Linked DNA regions of Homo sapiens: all the other regions are linked to region 1. Evidence: fine-mapped expression QTL. A gene starts in region 1. Each other region holds a variant in brackets. All regions are shown on one strand. Distances are between the middles of the regions. Region 1 holds the start of MAU2 (MAU2 sister chromatid cohesion factor). Region 2 overlaps CILP2 (cartilage intermediate layer protein 2). Region 3 overlaps HAPLN4 (hyaluronan and proteoglycan link protein 4).

Region 1 (4,100 bases):
CTGGCTCCAAGCAACAGACAATGATGTCTTCAGACTAGGGTGATAGTATGGAGACAGGGAAGACACCTCAGAGGTTCCCCATGGGACTCAGAATAAAATCCAAATTTTAAAAGTCTGAGCCGGGCATGGTGACTCACACCTGTAATCCCAGCACCTGGGAGGCTGAAGCAGGCAGATCACTTGAGGTCAGGAGATCGAGACCAGCCTGGCCAACATGGTGATACCCCGTCTCTACTAAAAATACACAAAAACACTGGCCAGGTGCGGTGGCCGGCGCCTGTAATCCCAGCTACTCAGGAGGCTGAGGCAGAAGAATGGCTTGAACCCGGGAGGTAGAGGTTGCAGTCAGCCGACATCGTGCCACTGCACTCCAGCCTGGGCGACAGAGCGAAACTCCGCTTCAACAAAAAGAAAAAAAGAATTCTAAAAGGCCATTTTCAAGGCCCCGCCAGATGGTTCCCCTCCCTTCTGCTTCATCCTTGACATTCTTCAAAAGGACAAGCCCATCCTACCAGGGCCTCTGCATTTACTGGCCCCCCTCTGTGTGGAAGGCTCCACCCTCCAGGGATTCCCATAGCTGGCATTCATTGTCTTAACTCAAATGTCCTCTGCTTGAAAAGGCCTTTCCCTGGGCCAGGTGTGGTGGCTCACACCTTTACGTAACCCCAGCACTTTAAGAGGCTGAGATGGGAGGATCGCTTGAGCCTAGGAATTCCAGACCTGCATGGGAAACGTGGCAACACAAAAAACACACAAATTCGCTGTGTGGTGGCGCGCATCTGTGGTCTCAGCTACTAGGGAGGCTGAGGTGGGAGGATCACCTGAACCCAGGGAGCCACAGTGAGCCACTGCACTACAGCCTGGGCGACAAAGTGAGACCCTGTCTCAAAAAAAAAAAAAAAAAAAAAAAGAAAGAAAGAAAGAAAAGGTCTTTCCTGACTACCCAATATCAGAAGCCTCCACTCTGATCATATCATACGTAACCTCACATCATACGTAAGTTTTTGTAAATATTTTCTCATTAATGCACTGACACCCCAGTAGAAAGCAACCTCCAGGAAGGCAGGGCCCTGTTTCGGTCACCGCTGCATGCGTAGCGCCCAGCACACTGCTTGGCACACAGTGAGCACGCCCTAAGTATCTGCTGATGGGTAAATGCATTCTATTCTGGGGAAGCAGAAAGGCCAAGGCTTGCAGCAAAGTGAGGGTCAAAAGACGCGGGAAAGTGTGTCAAGGGAGCCTCAAAGCACTTCGGAAAAGCAGCTTTTCCAGAAAGCGGGACACAGGCCAGAGGCCAGCTGCGACGAAAAGAGGGGTGCAGGGACAGCCCAAGGTTGTCGCCGTATTGGGGAACGGAGGTTGGAGCAGCCCTGAAGGCGGTTGTTTCGGAAACGGGACGCAGGGCCGAGCCGGGTGGCGGCCTCTACGGAGATCCGTGCGTCCTCAGCAAACCAAGCGGGGGCGGCCAGCAACCTGGGTCTGGGGTCTCGAGAAACCAAGAGGTGCAGAAGCCGACGCTGTGGGCTGCCCCGGGGCTGAAGCGAGGGATCCACGGGTCGCAGCAGGACGGACCCGAGGAGTCAGGGGAGACACCTAGCCCCAGGGACCCAGGCGGCCGCCTGAGAGGAGGCGGGGGCTGTTACCTGCAACATCCCGGTTGTCCATCTTGAGACTCATCCAATCCCACAATGCTCCGGCGCCCCTTAAGGGGCCCTGTTATAGTGTGCATCGCCTGATGGGAGATGTAGTCCGCCTCGGTCAGACTCGCCCTATTACTGCGTGAACGACTGGGTTTTTTTTTTTTTAACCTCCAGAAACGGAAGCCTCAGCCTATCAGCGATGCCTAAGTCCCAGTCACGATAACCAAACGGCGTCGCCCTTTTACACCTTCCCGGAGCGGCAGTCATCCCAAATACAAACTACATGTTCCAGGATGCTTTGGGCGGCAGATCTCGCGGAAGCCGCGAGGAGAGCCCGGCCCCGTCTCGCGCGCCTGCTTCCGCCTCCCTGTGGCGGCGGCTTGTTGTTGTGGAGGCCAAAATGGCGGCTCAGGCGGCGGCAGCGGCCCAGGCGGCGGCGGCCCAGGCTGCGCAGGCCGAGGCGGCCGACTCGTGGTACCTGGCGCTTCTGGGCTTCGCTGAGCACTTCCGCACTTCCAGCCCGCCCAAAATCCGCCTGTGCGTGCACTGCCTGCAGGCCGTGTTCCCCTTCAAGCCGCCGCAGCGCATCGAGGCCCGTACACACCTGCAGCTGGGCTCCGTTCTCTATCACCACACCAAGAACAGCGAGCAGGCGCGCAGCCACCTGGAGAAGGCGGTGAGCGCGGGCCGGGCCGCGAGGGAGGAGTCGCGGGCTCCTTGCAAGATCTGGGCTGACGGGTCGCGACCGCGGCGGGTGGGGGGCCGCTCCTCGGCGACCTGGGGGCGCGACCTCCGTCAAAGCCGCAGGACCCCCACCCGCCTCTGCCGGACCCCAAAGCCACCAGCCTCTCAAGGGACACGAAAGCCTCGCCCCCCACGCCTTATTTCCCGTTTCTGGTGACAGGGCTCCAGGAGCCCCGTCACCGTACTCTGAAAGTTGCCTGTTATTGGGAGCAACAGGATCCGCAAATCGTCTGGTTTTCAGGAGGATCCCACCTGTTGGTGGCGATGGGGACATCACAGGGTCCTGAAGCTATTAGCTCCTCCTGGTTCAGCTTCCGGAGCATCAGCCCCAAACGCTTCCACCTAAAGTGACTTGGGGTAGGGGTTGGCGAAGGCGAGACCCCTGGCATTCTCCCGGGAATCTGAAGTCTGGTCTCTCAGGAACCTGGAAGGGCATGATTCTCCTTGGACACAGAAGTTTGGTAATCGTGGTTTTTGGAGGGTCTTGTGCCCCCATCAATAATGCCTGGTGTCGTACGAGGGAAGCTGAGACCCGGAGTCTGGAGTTGGTCATTTGAGGCCTATGAGGAGGAGAAACAGGGGTTCTGGATTCCAGGCCCCGCTGTTCAGTTTCAGTATTAGGGGAACTAAAAGCAGCTCCTGCTTTTTCTCCATCCACTGGTGACTTCTACCATCCATCAGTCCATCCTCTTCCGTCAGAGTGAGTCCCTCCCCTGACCCAACTTGATTTGTGTCATCTTGGTGCCTCAAAGAATGCGGGAGAGTGGCTGTCATTCTGCCCTTTAGTAAACTTTCTTTTTTTTTTTTTTTTTGAGACGGAGTCTTGCTCTGTCACCCAGGCTGGAGTGCAGTGGTGCCATCTTGGCTCACTGCAAGTTCCGCCTCCCGGGTTCAGGCCATTCTCCTGCCTCAGCCTCCTGAGTAGCTGAGACTACAGGCGCCCGCCACCACGCCTGCCTAATTTTTTGTATTTTTTAGTAGAGATGGGGTTTCACCGTGTTAGCCAGGGTGGTCTCCATCTCCTGACCTCATGATCTGCCCACCTCGGCCTCCCACAGTGCTGGGATTACAGGCTTGAGCCACCGCGCCCGGCCCCTTTAATAAACTTTCTAGGGCCAGGCTCAGTGGCTTATGTCTGTAATCCCAGTATTTTGGGAGGCGGAGGCAGACAGATTACTAGACCCCAGGAGTTTGAGACCAGCCTGGGCAACACAGTGAGATCCCGTCTCTACAAAAAATACAAAAACTAGCTGGGCGTACTGACGCGGGCCTGTAGTCCCATCTACTCCAGAGGCTGAGGTGGGAGGATCAGCTAAGCCCCGGGAGGTCGTGGCTGCAGTGAGCAGTGATCACGCCACTTCACTCCAGCCTTGGTGACAGTGAAACCCTGTCTCAGAAAAAAAAGATAATAAGGAAAAAATAATAAAATTTCAGGCTGTGGAGTCGTTTTTTTCTCACAGCAGCGCTGTGATCCTGTCAGACCCCTGCCTCCCTTTTACCTTTTACCCAGCTCTGTCCTGCTTGAATAGAAAATTATTGAAAAGAATCAACTCAGATTTTAAAAACTCATTAATCTGAGGTAAATCCAAGCCCACCCTCAGCTAGTAACAACTTGCCTTGAGGAATAGATCAAATCTTTGTTTCACAGACTGAAAAGTTGGAAGGAGACTTTATTTTATTTTATTTTATTTATTTGTTTATTTTGAGACGGAGTTT
Region 2 (4,100 bases), 230 kb after region 1:
ATCTGGACGTGCCTGAGCGCCGCCGCTGCTTCGTGAAGGTGCGCGCCTACGCCAACGACAAGTTCACCCCCAGCGAGCAGGTGGAGGGCGTGGTGGTCACGCTGGTCAATCTGGAGCCCGCCCCCGGCTTCTCCGCCAACCCCCGTGCCTGGGGCCGCTTTGACAGCGCGGTCACCGGCCCCAATGGCGCCTGCCTCCCCGCCTTCTGCGACGCCGACAGGCCAGACGCCTACACCGCCCTGGTCACCGCCACCCTGGGCGGCGAGGAGCTGGAGCCGGCCCCTTCCTTGCCCCGCCCACTCCCGGCCACCGTGGGCGTCACCCAGCCCTACCTGGACAGGCTGGGGTACCGTCGGACGGACCACGACGATCCCGCCTTCAAGCGTAACGGCTTCCGCATCAACCTCGCCAAGCCCAGGCCAGGTGACCCCGCCGAGGCCAATGGGCCTGTGTACCCGTGGCGCAGCCTGCGGGAATGCCAGGGGGCCCCGGTGACTGCCAGCCACTTCCGCTTCGCCAGGGTGGAGGCGGACAAGTACGAGTACAACGTGGTCCCCTTCCGAGAGGGCACACCTGCCTCCTGGACTGGCGATCTCCTGGCCTGGTGGCCCAACCCGCAGGAGTTCCGGGCCTGCTTCCTCAAGGTGAAGATCCAGGGTCCCCAGGAGTATATGGTCCGCTCCCACAACGCAGGGGGCAGCCACCCACGCACCCGCGGCCAGCTCTACGGACTTCGGGATGCCCGGAGTGTGCGAGACCCCGAGCGTCCGGGCACCTCGGCAGCCTGCGTGGAGTTCAAGTGCAGCGGGATGCTGTTCGACCAGCGGCAGGTGGACAGGACGCTGGTGACCATTATGCCCCAGGGCAGCTGCCGGCGCGTGGCCGTCAACGGACTCCTTCGGGATTACCTGACCCGGCACCCCCCACCGGTGCCCGCGGAGGACCCAGCTGCCTTCTCCATGCTGGCCCCCCTAGACCCTCTGGGCCACAACTATGGCGTCTACACTGTCACTGACCAGAGCCCACGCTTGGCCAAGGAGATCGCCATTGGCCGCTGCTTTGATGGTTCCTCTGACGGCTTCTCCAGAGAGATGAAGGCTGATGCCGGCACAGCCGTCACCTTCCAGTGCCGGGAGCCACCGGCCGGACGACCCAGCCTCTTCCAGAGGCTGCTGGAGTCCCCGGCGACAGCACTTGGTGACATCCGCAGGGAGATGAGCGAGGCGGCGCAGGCACAGGCCCGGGCCTCAGGTCCCCTCCGCACCCGCCGGGGTAGGGTCCGGCAGTGACCTGGGCAGGGGCCTCGCTTTCCCACCTCCCTCCAGACTCCTTTGACCCCAGGAAGTTTTGCCCCTCCTTCTTCTCCAGACAGCCCCCTCCCCAGGTGTCTGGGTCCCCTTTCCCGCCCCTTTCCAGAACTCAGAGTCAGACAAGAACCCAGAGCATCCGATGGTAGAAACACCAGGAAGACAATTGTTGCTGTGTGGTATGGAATGGAGTTTGCGGTGACTCTGGGGCCAGCACCCAGGGGACGACGTTCAACCCTAGCCTGAAGGGACCCGCTCCCAGCTCAGAAGCCGTCTCTGACTTCTCGTGCGTATTTTGACCCTGATTTCAATCTTCTACCCTTGGGAGTTCTGGCGTTTGGCACAAAGTCCCCTCTGCCTGTTTGGAGCTCAGTGCTAGACCAGGTCCCCTGCCCCGAGCTTTGTTTTTGGGGTTATTTATTGAAACAAAGTGTGGGGAGCTGGTTGTGGGTGTGAGTGGGGGTGTGGGGTCCAGGCTGGGCCCAGTGAAAAGGAGGAAGGGGTTCCCATGCGGGGGAGGCTCTGGGGCTGAGGGGAACAATTCTCACGTGTTTGGTGCTTAGAGACCTGCCCGGGGCGTTGGGCAGGCCCTCCGGGGGCTGAATTAAAAATGCTTTATTTCCAACTCATGGTGTCAGGCTCTAGGGAGGAAGGATGGAGGCTGGGGCTGCCCGGCCCAGATACACCTTTCAGGCAGAAACACGCGGAGGCACACGCGGGTGCCGGGGGCAAGAAGCACGGGCGGC[T/C]GTGACCGCTGAACACAGTGGCAGCCTGCTGCTCTGGCCTGGACTCCTTGGCTGTGCCTGGCCGTATGCCCCGGGGCTACAGCAGGCAGGGAGGGGCCCTGGCAGGGGAGCCTCTGGGGCAGGCAACAGCAAGCCAGGCCACCCTGGACCTCCTCAGTCGAGTCCACAGCAGCCCCACCCTGGGCCCCACCCACCTGAACCCCGGCCACACCTCGGTCATGTGGCGACGGGGCTGCCCGAGGCCAGGGCTTTCTGACCTTGCCAGGACCCTGGGTCTGGAGGCGGCAGAATCACGGCTGGCTGGCAGTCTGTGTGCACGTGTGTCCTCCTGGCGCTCCACAGGGCCGGCGCTGTCCTGACCACACCCCCACTGTCCAGACAGAAAAACTGAAGTCCTGGGGTCTGGCATGAATCCCAGCAGGTTTGAGCCCCCTATAGCTCTAGGTGTGTGATTCCCCAGGGTCTGGGGATGAAGGCATCAATGTGGCAAGACTGGAGTGGCCTCCAGGGCACCTGGGATGGGAGACTTGTCCCTGGCTGACACCCCCTAGGGAGTGGGGGTATGGAGCGTCCCTTAGCTTAGGGGGCAACCACCCACTTCCTCTTCAATCTCCCACCCATTCACTGGCTCCCCTCTCCAGACCCCCGATCTCATCATTCACCCATCCAGCATTTAGAGGTGTGAGCTCTGCACTAGCAACTTCAGGGGACCTGAGAGAGCCTATCTCTCTAGGGGGAGACAGGCTCACACGTGCATACCCCAATATGCCCTGGGCCAGTGCTCCACCCAGAGGGTCCCTGGCTCTTGTCCACTGGCCACATCCCCCCTTCGGCTGAGGTCTTGGCAAATCCGAACCTCCGCAGCTCTCACCCTTTCAGTCAGGGAAACACTTCCTTTGCCCTAGGGTGGACTTGGGGGCCTGGAGGCATGGGAGAAGCCCAAGATGCGAGGCGTCACCCCTGGTCTCTGAAGGTGGGCCCTAAGGGCTCTGCTGGAGTTTGGGTTTGGGCAGCCCCAGACATTGGCACCCCAGCCTCACCCTCGATAGGCTGTGACAGGCAAGAGAGGCGAGAGGTCCCTGAGGGAGCTGGCAGGGCTTGGGAGAACACACATTTATCCAGAACTTACTGTCTCTATACCCCCAGCTGATAGGCTCAGAGGCACAGGCCCCTCCCAAGGCAACCTAGGTTCCCGGCCTGCCTGCCACAGAACCCTGCTCAGGGCTGCCTGGTGGGGGTCCTGGGGAGGGGTGGGAATGGGGGCGCTCCCACTTGAAGCGGGCAAAGCTGGCTGCAGCTTTCCAGGCGGAGGGTGATGAGGTGTCAGGCTCCACGGCCAAATACCTTTCATTGAGAAAGTGTTGGGGCCTCCGACGCTGCCAGGCTAGGGCGGCCAGCCAGGCATGGAGCGGGCAGCTGGCCCAGCCCTGTCCCCTTCCCTAGGGTGGGGCAGGGGTGGACGGGCATCCTCCAGAAGCCCCCTCCCCAGTCACCACGCCTGGGCCAGGAAGGGCATCTCAGGAGGAGGACATGGCTGAAGCAAAAGCTGGGCAGGGCACGGGGCTAGAGTCCAGCTCCTCCCCATCCCTGCTGATAACTCTGCAAGAGGGCAGCGTTTGGCCACAATTTCCAGATGAGGAAACTGAGGCTCCAAGAGAAGGACGCCATCAACCTGAGTCAACAGCCTTGTGCCTCTTGACACTGCCTGTCTCCCCCAACTGCAGCCCTCAAGCCAGGAATCCCACCCCCTCCCTCCTGGAACCTGGGCTACCGTCCGCCTCCTGGTAAATCCATTGTCTACCCCCCAACCAAATTGGGGCTGCCAGACCACACCCCCTCAGTCTGGGAGGAGTGAGGGGCAGGGGACCCCCTCGAAGAGACCCCCAGCTGCAGCCACCCTGGGTCAGCTCAGGGCACAAACAGGCCCTTGGTCCCGCCCACGGCATTTTAGACTTTTATAATTTTAGAACCAGGGGTTCTTAAAATTCCTAGCACCATGATGGGGAAAAAATCTTGGAACAGTAAAATGTTTAAAACAAGAGTCTTC
Region 3 (4,100 bases), 62 kb before region 1:
TGCTCTGCATAACTAGTGACATGGATCTTACCGGTCCCCAGGCCTGGGAAGATGGTCTGTTTGGTGACAGTTGGGAAAGGGACGTCAGAGGACAGGGTGGGTTTGCTCTCCCTTCAAAGAAATATCTGAGGGGTGGGACGTGGCCCCCAGTAAGTGAGCCAGCTGGCTGTGTGTCAGTCTGAGGTGGCAGATGGGGGTGCTCGCCCATGAAACTAGAGGGGTGTGCCCTGTTACCCAGAAACTGCAGGGGACTCTCAGGGAGAGGGGGAGAATGGGAGTCTCCAGGACTCAGGTCACCATAAGGGAAAATAAGCGCCTCGGCCCACAACCTCCATGTGACCACGGGGAGTGACCCTGAAGTTCCTGTAGTCTCTCCAGGTGAGGAGGAGGGGGAGGAGGAGGCGCCCAGTGTCCCACGTGACCGCAAGGGACTAGTGTTCAGTCTCCAGTGAGATGCAGAAGGTGTACGGCCGGTCTCTAGTCAATCCCGGGGGTCCAGCCACCAGGCGACCACGGGGGCAGTTGGTCTGTTTCCAAGTGGTCTCAGGAGGCGTGGCCAGTCTTCAGGAGCCTGCGGGTTCTGCTGGCCTCCTGAGGTCCTCAGGGGGCGTGACCCTCATGGAGAAAGTTGGGGAGTTGGGGGAATCCTCTATCCAGAAGAGGTGAGGGCTGGCCAGGCTCCAGGGAACTCCAAAGTACTGTTCTGCCAGGACTAGCCAGTCTTCAGGGACCCCAGGGGCACAGTTAGTTTGTAAGGGACCACAGGGAATGTGGCCAGTGTCCAGGGCTTCAAGGGCGTGGCCAGGCTCCAGGGGACCACAGGGCTCTAGACCAGTGGTCAAGCGCCCTGGCTGTCCGCCTACTCCCAGCCTAGACGTGCAGAGGGGTCCAGGCAGCAGGATCGCGCGCGCCCCCTGCCCAGCCGCCGCCGCCCGCCCAGCCCCAGCCCCAGCCGCCAGGTGCCGGGTCCGGTGCTCCTGGAGCGCGGTAGCAGTAGACGCCGAAGAGCCGTCGGGTGGCGTCCGGGAAGCCGAGGCTGCGCACACCAGGCCTGCGGCCTCCGCAGCGCGCTCGCGGGTTCACGATGGGGTAGCGCGCACTGCCATCGGCCAGCCAACCCGCGGTGCAGCGGTCTAGCAGCTGCAGCTTCCACGCGGCGAACAGCTGCCCCACCTTGGCCACGGCCGCGCCACGCGCAGCACACGCGCGCGCAGCTCCGGAGAAGGGTACAGGTCGCAGCGGCTTCAGGAAGAACACGCGCCCTGCGGGGGTGAGGTGGGGGGTGGGTTATTAGTGCGGCTCCTGGGACCCTGCTTCGGTGGGATTCAGGACTGCCCCCCGCATGCAGCCTAGGACTCTGGCCTCGGCCCCGGGATCCAGGAACAGTTCCTCCTTTGCAGCCTGGGACCCCAGCCTAGGCCCAACCAGCGTTGGTACCAGGCGGTGTGTGCTGCGCCTAGGCACTCTTGGGAGAGGGGTCTCCTGTTTCTGATCGCTAAGAGCTGGGTGGGGAAGAAGGCCCCGGGGTTGGGGTAGTGTTGCAGCAGAGGCCAGTCTTGGGGTGAGGCCTACGCACCCGGCAGGTTGGACGTGAAGCAGAAGGCGTCGTAGCGTTCCTCGGCGTTATGGCGATACCCGTAGTTGCGCAGGCCCCCGTTGGCATCACCGCCGCCCCCTGC[A/G]CTCCCGGTCCCCCCCAGGCCGCCGCAGGGCTCCCGGGGCCGGTTCACGGGGTATTGCACTGAGCCGTCGCGCAACCAGCCCGCGTTGCACCAGTCCAGGCCGTCGCGCCAGGCCGCGTGCAGCTGTTCTGCAGATGCCAGGATGCCGTCCTGCTCGGCGCACGCGCGCTGCGCCTCCGCGAAGGTCAGCTTGTATCGGCCTCCACGGGGGTGGTAGGGAAAGACCACGCCTGGCGGGGGGCGCACGGGATCAGCAGGTACACCCCAGCCCACCCTCATGCACCTGACGTCTGGGGTGCTATGTGACTCTTCAACCGGGACCTTTCAGTCCATTCCTCCTCACTCTGGCCTCAGACCTGACCACGATCCTCCCCAGCTCACACCCCATATAGCTGTCTCCCTTCACTTTAAGCTTGGGATTCACTTGACCCTCCCCCTTAACATACTATTTGTGTCCATCCCCTTCCACCTCTGGAGGACTTTGCTCATGCTCTTTCCACCTTATTCTACCTGTTGAACTCCTATTCATCCTTCAAAATCCAACTCCCAAACCCTCTTCCATTGAGTCCTGTGTGCCTCTGACATTCCGCCAGTACTGGGTCCCTCCCTCTGGTCCAGCCCTGAGCCCACGGAGCCTGCGTTCAGTGCTGACTCTCCTAGACTAGGACCCCCTGGAAGATTGGCCCTAGGTGAAGACCCCTTTGATTCCCCCAGCATTGTCCAAGGGAGTACCCACTGGGTTCCCTTCTACCTTCAGTTCTGATGACTTTGGAACTTGTCCCTCATTGGACTCACAGTCCGTTCAGCTCAAGTATTTTGTGTGTCTGTGTTTGAGGGACGCGGGTTGGGGGTGAGTGGGGTACCCTGGAAAGAGGCAGACAGGGTCCAGGGAGAAGGCCTGGAGCTGACAGACTGGGGATTGAATCCTGTCTCTGCCACCAACTAGCACTGTCCTGGGCAAGGCTCTAACCTCTCTGAGCCTGTTGTCCATCTGCTGGTAATAGCTGTCTCCCTTGGGGTTTTTAGGAAATTAAATTAGAGACTCCTGAGAACTCTTCAACTAAGCACCTGCCACAGAAAATGTCCAGTAAAGGAGAGCTGCTGCTATTATTGTTGTTATTTGTTATTGTTAGGGAGGTCAGCAAGCAAGGGCCCTGAAATCTCACCTAGAATCTTCTAAAGAGAACTGGAAAAGGCCAATCAAATGGGAGGGAATTCTTCAAATAGAAACCCCACCTCCCAGCTCCAGGGTGAGCCAATCAGAGCATCCCATCTTCCAGCTACAGTGATTGGCTCACAGTTGGGCACATGACTCAAGCTGAGCCAGTGAGGGACAACTCTGGGACTCTAGCTGCTGCTCCTAGGAAATCAGTTGCTAAGCAGGGAAGTGAAAGCCTAGGCACTGTGGTCTTGGTTCCAGAAAGAGAAGCCTGTCGGAAGAAAGCCTACCTGGGAAGCAGAGCAGAAGGATGGTTCCTGACACGGTGTGAGTGCCTGGATCTCACTGTGCCTGAATCCTATCCCAGGACTTCTCAGTGTCCTCATTGTGGACATTTTGGACTGGATCACTTTTATTTTATTTTATTTATGTATTTATTTATTTATTTTTGAGATGGAGTCTCGCTCTGTCGCCCAGGCTGGAGTGCAGTGGCACGATCTCCACTCACCGCAACCTCCACCTCCCGGGTTCAAGAGATTTTCCTGCCTCAGCCTCCCAAGTAGCTAGAATTACAGGAATGCACCACCATGCCTGGCTAATTTTTGTATTTTTACTAGAGATGGGGTTTTGGCATGTTGGCCAGGCTGGTCTTGAACTCCTGACCTCAGGTGATCCGCCTGCCTCAACCTCCCAAAGTGCTGGGATTACAGTCGTGAGCCACCATGCCCGGCCTGGATCACTCCTTGTGGGGGACTATCCTGTGCCTGGTAGGATGTATAGCTGCATCCCTGGCCTCTACCCACTAGGGGCTAGTAGCAACTGCCTTCTCCAGATGTGACAACGTAAAATATCTCCAGACATCGCCAATGTCCCTGGGGAGGAAAATCACCCAGAACCAGATATGGGGGCTCTACCCCAACCAACCTTCTAAATGCCTGCAGGCCAACTTGATTTGGTTTATGTCCCTTGCCATCCCCGCCCCCCTCCTTCCTCAGAAGCAAGGTTTATCCTCCCCACCGGCTGATCACCTTCCAGGTCCAGCTTGACCATGCCAGCGTCATCTTCCAGCTCATTGGTGACTTCGCACTCATAGCGCCCGTAGTCTTGCAGCGTGACGTTGCGGAGGACCAGGGAGGCATCCCCAGGCCCGTCGCCCTGCAGCTCAGCCCGCCCACGGTAGCTGCCGAATGCCCGGTGCTGGGGGCCTAGTGCCACGAAGACGTCGGTGAAGGCCAGCGGGTCCACCACCTTTGTCCACTTGA

What was found. PIP is the estimated chance that this variant, and not a neighbour inherited with it, causes the effect.
Region 2: its variant is fine-mapped to the expression of MAU2 in whole blood (INTERVAL, PIP 0.97).
Region 3: its variant is fine-mapped to the expression of MAU2 in whole blood (INTERVAL, PIP 0.97).

Annotation. Positions count from the first base shown.
Region 1 is chr19:19,318,820-19,322,919 of GRCh38, forward strand. MAU2 (MAU2 sister chromatid cohesion factor) reads left to right here and starts at 2,010. Exons shown (of 19, transcript NM_015329.4): 1 at 2,010-2,316. The coding sequence starts at 2,041. SUGP1 (SURP and G-patch domain containing 1) reads right to left here and starts at 1,690. Exons shown (of 14, transcript NM_172231.4): 1 at 1,644-1,690. The coding sequence starts at 1,677. RefSeq lists enhancers at 1,558-1,607, 1,628-2,117, 1,826-2,797 and a silencer at 2,169-2,390.
Region 2 is chr19:19,544,728-19,548,827 of GRCh38, forward strand. It overlaps CILP2 (cartilage intermediate layer protein 2), which reads left to right. Exons shown (of 8, transcript NM_153221.2): 8 at 1-1,932. The coding sequence ends at 1,289. Among named protein-coding and RNA genes, the nearest start is that of CILP2, 8.5 kb to the left of the region's middle. RefSeq lists an enhancer at 655-1,338. The variant T/C (reference allele first, on the strand shown) is at 2,054.
Region 3 is chr19:19,256,947-19,261,046 of GRCh38, forward strand. It overlaps HAPLN4 (hyaluronan and proteoglycan link protein 4), which reads right to left. Exons shown (of 5, transcript NM_023002.3): 3 at 3,867-4,100; 4 at 1,577-1,909; 5 at 1-1,262. The coding sequence ends at 871. Among named protein-coding and RNA genes, the nearest start is that of HAPLN4, 3.8 kb to the right of the region's middle. The variant A/G (reference allele first, on the strand shown) is at 1,680.